2 linked regions of the Homo sapiens genome follow. The protein of the gene in region 1 purifies or fractionates together with the protein of each later gene. This does not show direct contact. Each region holds a gene or a part of one and is shown in the gene's direction. Other genes may lie near its edges.

What was found.
Region 2: the proteins of RPH3A (region 1) and GCH1 purify together in Homo sapiens (affinity purification with western blotting, with the first as the bait; one study listed by BioGRID). This does not show direct contact.

What each region holds. Positions count from the first base shown.
Region 1 is NC_000012.12:112,871,668-112,875,493, forward strand, and holds part of RPH3A (rabphilin-3A), read left to right. Parts: intron 1-900; exon of another isoform or gene 901-2,491; intron 2,492-3,117; exon of another isoform or gene 3,118-3,290; intron 3,291-3,416; coding exon 3,417-3,503; intron 3,504-3,826. UniProt on the Homo sapiens protein: Plays an essential role in docking and fusion steps of regulated exocytosis.
Region 2 is NC_000014.9:54,864,679-54,868,504, reverse strand, and holds part of GCH1 (GTP cyclohydrolase 1), read left to right. Parts: intron 1-3,068; coding exon 3,069-3,178; intron 3,179-3,826. UniProt on the Homo sapiens protein: Positively regulates nitric oxide synthesis in umbilical vein endothelial cells (HUVECs). May be involved in dopamine synthesis. May modify pain sensitivity and persistence.

The sequences.
Region 1 (3,826 bases):
GAATACACAATATTCTATTGTGTATTTATATAGTGTATATATATATACACACACATAATATAGTGTACATATATATACAATAGAATATATAGAAACAGTATATATAATATAAAATATACAATATACAGTATACGTTATATATTATATACATATAGTGTATATACACACAGTGCATATACTATATATAGTGGTGTATATGTATATACATGTATATATACATATATATAGTGGTGTGTGTGTATATATATATTATATATACTACATTCTGTTTATCCATTCACCCATCAGTGGGAGTTTGGTTTATTTCAACCTTTTAGCTGTTGTAAATGATGTCATTGTGCGCCTGACATACAAATATCTGTTGCACTCTGTTCTTTTGAGTATATACCTATAAGTGAAGTTGCTGGATCATATGGTAATTCTGTGTTTAATTTTTTGAGGAACCACCATTCCGTTTTCCATGGTGGCTGAGACATTTTTAGATTCCCACCAACAATGCAAAAGGGTTCTCATTTCTCCATGTCCTCACCAATATTTGTTATTCTCTGGGTTTTGTTTTTGTTTTTAATAAGTCATCCCAGTGGTGTGAAGTGGCATCTCCTTGTGGTTTTGACTTGCATTTCCCTATGATTAGTGATACTGAGCATCTTTTCTTGTGCTTTTGGCCATTTGGATATTTTCCCTGGAGACACAGCTATTCAAGTCCTTTGAACACATTTTAAACTGGATAGTTTGTCTTTTGTTGTTGAGTCATAGAAGTTCTTTATATATTCTGGATATTAATGTCTTATCAGATATATAATTTACACATTTTTCTCTTATTTCATGGGTTGTTTTTTCACTCTTTTATAGTGTCATTTGATGCAAAGAAGGCTTTTATTTTGATGAAGCCCAGTTTCTTTTCTTTTTCTTTTCTTGCCTATGTTTTTAGTGTCATATCTAAGAAATCATTGCCTAATCTAAGATCATGAAGAAGTTCCTTTATGTTTTCTTCTAAGAGTTTTATAGTTTTAGCCCTTATATTTGGGTCTTTGATTCATTTTGAGTTAATTTCCACATATCAAATCCTGCTTTTAACGTCTATATTATTTTGTCTTCTGAGGACAAAGACAGTCATAGGACATTTCTGAACTGGATTTGAATCCCCTGTCCCTCAGGAGTCAATGTAAATATTCGTCTTGTCTAGCTTCTAGCATCCACCTGCTCCACCTTGAGTTGGGTTAGCTGCTACCTTCTCTGAGCTCCCAGGGTGGTGAGACGCAGCCCTAATGCAGGACTTATCACTGTCTAAAGCATTATAGCCTGAATCTCTCTCCCTTGTAATACCAGGGACATGTCTCTCTCCATTAATTTATTATGTTTCCAAATATTTGGAGCATCTACCATAATTTTATCTCTTGCTCATCATTTTCCAGCCTATACTAAGATTCTTAGTTGATTATAGGCTCTCAAATACTTACAGATTTGAATTAATAATCATAATAACAACTTAAACTTATTGAGCATCTACTCTCTGCCGGGTATGTGATTAAACCCTTTGCATGGGTCATACTGATCCAATCCACAGCTCTTTTTGGATAGGTACTATTGTAGTCATCTTCACATAATAGATGCAGCAAAGAGAGGCTAAAACAATCTCAAGGTCACATAAAAGTAATAGCAGGGCTAGTGTTTAACCCAGGCAGTTCACGTGCAGAGCCAATGCTCCTAGCTGGTCTGTTACAAGTTCCACTTGAGGGACTGAGAGCAGCTCAGTAAAACAAATTCCCAGTAAAACTCCCTTGTTCCAGGGCTTAATCCTGGAATCTCAGAGTCCTCCCTCACACACAGTGTGGAAATCCCTTCAGAGGTCTCTGAAAGGCTTTTGATCACCCACATACTCTCTGTCTCCCTACCTCTTGGAGCGGCTTATTCTATTGTTGATGGGCTTCAGGTGTGATTTACACATTCAACAAGATCTGAGATAGATTTGGACAGAAGTCCTACCTTCGGGGCTTCCTGGTTATGTGACCTTGGGCATATTTAACCCCCACTACCTCAACTGCAAAATGGGGAGCACAATACCATGCATGGCATTGAGTTGTGAAGCTTCCATGAGGCGATGTTCAAGGCCTGGTGCATTTGAAGAACTCAATGACTGTTGGGTATTGTTGCATCATAAACTCATCATTTCAGTGTCTGTCTCCTTCCTGTGACTGGGCTGTGCACTCCTGGAGGATATAAGATGGTGTTTTGTTCATCTTAGCACAGGGATTGGCACTTGGTAGACACCCACTGGATGCTTGTTGAATGAACAAATGAATGAATGGACAAATGAACAGGGCCTCAAGTGAACAAACAAATGGCAGTGCTAATGTGGGAACCTGGGACAAGACTTGGTGATTTGTAAGCCCCCAGGCAGAGGTGGTAAAGCACCTTTTGTTATGTGTATTCAAGCATCCATCCAGCCAAAAGTGCTGGATTCAGGAAAGATGGCATCTAGCCCAGTGAGGTAAGAAAAAGCAGGGCTTTCTTCCCAGAACATCACACCTTCTGGGTACCAGAAACTGCTGCACACATCATTCCATTCAGTCCCTCTCTGGGAAACAACAGCATGTAAGGGTCTCTGGCACAGATTCCAGAGGCCAACTGCCAGCGTTCAAACCCTGGCTCTGCAGTAACCAGCCAAGAGACATTAGATGAGCTCAGTAACTTCTCTGTGCCTCAGTTTCCCCATCTATAAAATGGAGATCATAAGGCCCCACCCCATAAGGTTATTAGTAGAAATTAAAGAAGTTCTTATATGTAAAGTCCAGGGCACATGGTAAGCACTAAATAAGTATGAATTCATTATCATTATGAGTTAAGTGGAACTGTTGCCTCCATGGGGCATCTAAGGTTCAGAGAGGATGAGTATCCAGCCCAGGGTCACACAGGCCATATGGGAAACAGCAGGAAGGCAAAGCCAAGTCCATATGAAGATAGAGACACATTCTTTCAATAATAATAAAATAATCTCACCACCTGTCATGTGTCGAGTCTTTAGTACATGCCAAGCACTGTTCTGAGCATTGCCTGTTTGTGTCATTGTATCTTCCCCACAACTCTATCAGCTAAGTGATTATCTCCATATACCAGGTGAGGAAACTGAGGCCCAGAGAGGACAGGTCACTTGAGCAACGTCACACAGGTGGAAGGAGGATTGTAGAACCTGTGCTTTTTAACAACTGCTGCTGCTGTGACTCACCAGAGTCTGAGTATTGAGAAGAAAGAACACACTGAAGGCAGAAGAGTCAGAAAGAGCTGAGCGAGTGAGGAGCTGCCTCCAGTGAAAGTCCAAGGGGCTCACCCCACACCAGCTGAGTGGTCCCAAGCTCCTTCCTGCTGTGTGTGTGTGTGTGACACATAATGGCTGTTTTCTTTTCTTTCCTCTGCAGGTTTGAGACGGGCCAACTCAGTCCAGGCCTCCAGACCTGCCCCAGGCTCGGTGCAGAGCCCAGCGCCACCTCAGCCTGGGCAGCCAGGTACCTGCCACTCACCTGCTAGCACCTGCCCAGGCTGTCACTCGGCTGTGACCCTCATACCTCCCATCCCTGCTTGCAGAGCATGCTGGGCTTTCTGCAAAGCTGCAGCCACAACTAAATCTTAACCTCTTCTAAGACCCTTACAACCAGTAATTCCCTGGGCCAAGAAGCTGGGCAGGGAGTGGGAGGAGGAGGCAGGGAGCATCTTACCCACCCAGTGCAGAAAGTGATGGCACCTCATTCGCCAGTGTTTCCCACCTCAAGGACCAACACCCCCATTTCACAGAGGAGCAAGTCAAGGCTCAGGAAGTTCCCACAGCACT
Region 2 (3,826 bases), on another chromosome or scaffold:
ACAATCTGACAATTCCTTAGTCTTTCTGTGTCTTTCATGACTTTGATGCCTTAATTTTTTTTTTTAATTTTTAAACACTTAAAAAATAGAGACAGGATCTTGCCCTGTCACTCTATTTGGAGTGGAGTGGTGCAATCATAGCTCATTGTAGCATTGAACTGCTGGGCTTAAGTGATCCTCCTGCCTTAGCCTCCTGAATAGCTATGACTATAGGAGTGTGCTGCCGTGCCTGGCTAATTTTTTTCTTATTTTTTGTGGAGATGGGATATTGCAGTGTTACCTAGGCTGGTCTCAGAATGCTGGGCTCAAGTGATCCTCCCACCTTGCCCTACCAAAGTGCTGGGATTACAGGTGTGAGCCACTGTGCCTGGCCTGATGCTTTCTAAGAGTACTTGTTTAGATATTTTGTGTCCCTAGATTTGTCTGATGATTAGGCTGCAGTTATGGATTTTTGGGAAGAATACCGCAGAGGTGATGTGCCCTTCTCATGGTGTCCTATCAGGAGCTACCTGATGTCAGTATGTCCTGTTACTGGCAAAGTTAACCTTAATCATTTGGTTAAGGTAGCCTCTGCCAGGTTTCTCCACCAAGTTACTATTTTTCCTTTTCTGTACTCTGTTAAGGCAAATTATTGCTTTTTAAATTTTGATGTACCTCAATATGCATGGGAGATACATAGCTTTGCAGCTCCCTCAATCTTAATTGTAATAATAATAGTAATAACAATAACTAGCACTTGCTCCGCCTGCATAGTTCTAAACACATGTGCCCATTTAATCCTCATGACACCCTGTGAAGCAGGCACTTTATGCTCATTTTATAGCCGAGAAGACTGAGGTACAGAGTACCTTGCCCAAGGCCTAATAACTAGTAAGTGATGGAGCCAGATCTTTTTTTTTTTTTTTTTTTTTTTTTGAGACGGAGTCTTGTTCTCTCTTGCCCAGGCTAGAGTACAGTGACATGATCTCGGCTCACTGCAGCCTCCACATCCCGGGTTCAAGCAATTCTCCTGTCTCAGCCCCCCGAGTAGCTGGGACTACAGGCATGCACCACCACGCCTGGCTTATTTTTGTATTTTCAGTAGAGACAGGGTTTGACCATGTTGGCCAGGCTGGTCTCAAACACCTGACCTCAGGTGATCCACCTACCTCTGCCTCCCAGAGTGCTGGGATTACAGGCATGAGCCACTGCACCCAGCCTGGAGCCAGCTCTTCACTTCGCCTGAGTTGAAGGGCTGACTTTAACATGGGCCATATGGTTGTCGTCAGAGCTTAGGATGGGGACGCTCTCATTCTTTGCCAGAGAAAACAAATGCTTCCTATATTTAATGCTTCTCTCTTGTTTTTTCTTTAAGACATTTTTTTGGTTTGTTTTTCCTTCCAGGAATATATCTTGTGTGACTAAAGATTTTAGTAAGCTATATGTGGCAATCATACCATATTAAAATCTTGGGGAGAAATCCAAGAAACTTTTGGAAACATTAAGGATCTATTTTTGGTCTTCTTTTCAGAAATAAGACTGAAGGTAGGGCAGAATATTCAGCATAGAAAAGTGCTGTGGTAGAAGAAATACTCAGTGAGTGACACTGCGCCTTTTTCTCCTGGGATGTTATCAGCCACTTCTACCAGGGGTGTCTCTGTTTGTCTGTATGTGTCTAACCCTGCCATGTTCGCCTTTCTTGACCACACTAATGACTTTTCTATGACACAGTCAAATGTATCTCTGAATAGCCTGACTTGGGGTAATAACTGTGGTTTACGTGATGACTTGGTCTCTGTGAGCCCCCTATTCTAGTAGCAGTGGAGCCACTGAAGGTCAGGCAGTGTGGGTGGACATTTGTCCATCTTCCTGTGACTCACTCAGCCGCCTGCCTTTCTGAGGGGAAAGAGCTGCAGGTGCAAAGCTCTAATACATCCCTTCCCTTCTCTGTCTAATTCTATTATGTATATTGCATATCCCCCAAATCCTTGAAATTACTCAGCTACGTGTCTTATTATATCTAGTCTGCCAAGCTGTCTAGGTATCAGTACAGTTTTTTTCTATGTCTATATTTATTTTCCGAAAATGAAATCCTACTGTATTTCTTTGTAGCTTCTTTTCTCATTTGACAATATAGCTGAAGAAGTTTCCATGTCATATGGCATTTATCTACAATGTTGTTTGGGTACCTGCCTATTATCAATAGCTTGGCTATATTATGATTGGTGGGGAATGTGGCTTGTTTCCCTCTATCCCTCTTCAGCATCCAGGACAGGATGTTCTTGCAGTCACCGAATGTTAGGAAGCTCAGAGTGCTCTCAGGCATCATCTGATTAATCTTTTCTTTTGCACATAGCATAGTTGAGGATAAGTCAGTGCAATTTTTAAAAATAAAGCTTTTTTTTTTTTTAATGTCTATTGTATGTCTGGCTGGAAGTGCCAGGGTCCACAGCTTAAACAAGACACTGCTTATCTTCCAAAGCCTTCCCAGAGAGGCATATACACACAAACTGTAGGATTTATTTCCTTAGGAAGGCAACTGTTTAGAATAAGTCTGATGCTAGCCTACAATATATAGAACACTTTACAAATGTAGAAAATTACTTGGGGAATTGATAATAGAGGTCAGGTTTACAGGTGTCTGGATCTGGCCTCAGAAGTCAGAGGGCTAAGGATTAGTCTTTTTCTCAGATATGGTTTTCTACATATTGATTATAGACAAAATATAAAGTAGAAGAAAATGTAAGGAAGAAAGTGAAAGTGGCCCATTTCTACTGCCAGAAATAGCCACTGTTTTATTTTGGTATAATTTTTCCTTTCCTCCCTCCGTTCTCCTTCCTCTTCCATACTGCAAATATGTTCATAATCCTGCATTTTTCATGTAACACTGTATCAAGGATTTTTAAATGTTACTTACAGAAAAGGACTTTGCTACTTTGATAAGGAAAAATATCTAGTTTTAATTTGTATTCCCTTAATATTTTAGGGAGGATTAACGTTCGTTTATGTTGACTGTCTATTCATGTTTATCCATAATTCTACCTTTCTATAAAATTGGACATGTTACTAAAGCAAGCCTCTGATTTCAGATGTCCTAAACGATGCTATATTTGATGAAGATCATGATGAGATGGTGATTGTGAAGGACATAGACATGTTTTCCATGTGTGAGCATCACTTGGTTCCATTTGTTGGAAAGGTAAGGTTCTCTTTGTTGTTTCCCAGCAATTTAAAACATAGTGAAAGTTTTTCAATTAGAATAATTATATTTAAAATTTTTAGCTGCCAATTGCTGATATCTCAGGTATTTACAATTATACATATATGGTTATTCTTTATTAACCTGACTAATAACTTGAAACTTAAAAAACAAAACCAAAGTAGCAGAAGGCTCTCAGGATAAGCCTTTCATGTTAAATACCAGGTTCATAGGTTAAAATAATGAGGTTTAAGTAGCATCTCTCTCTCTCTTTTTTTTTTTTTGTAGCTACTACAGGCTCTGAAAACCTTTAACCTTTATTTATTTATTATTAGCATCCCAATCTAGAGATGCCCTTTATTTTAACTTGAATAATGTTTGATCCAAGATAGATATGTATGTATGGCATGTCATGAGCAACAATAATTGCAGAATTTCTTGTGACAGAGGTTATGGTATTTGTGGATTTGTTTCCATTCCTTTCTATATTAGGAAAAGTGAATCTAATGCATTAGATTCCTCAGCACCTCTGTGAATTTCTTTTGTCAGAAATGTTTAGTCCTAGTCTTATGAAACTTTAGATCTAATCTAGTTTACAGGAAATCCAGAGGCTGAATGGAACAAATCCAGAAGGTGGGGCACTCTGCT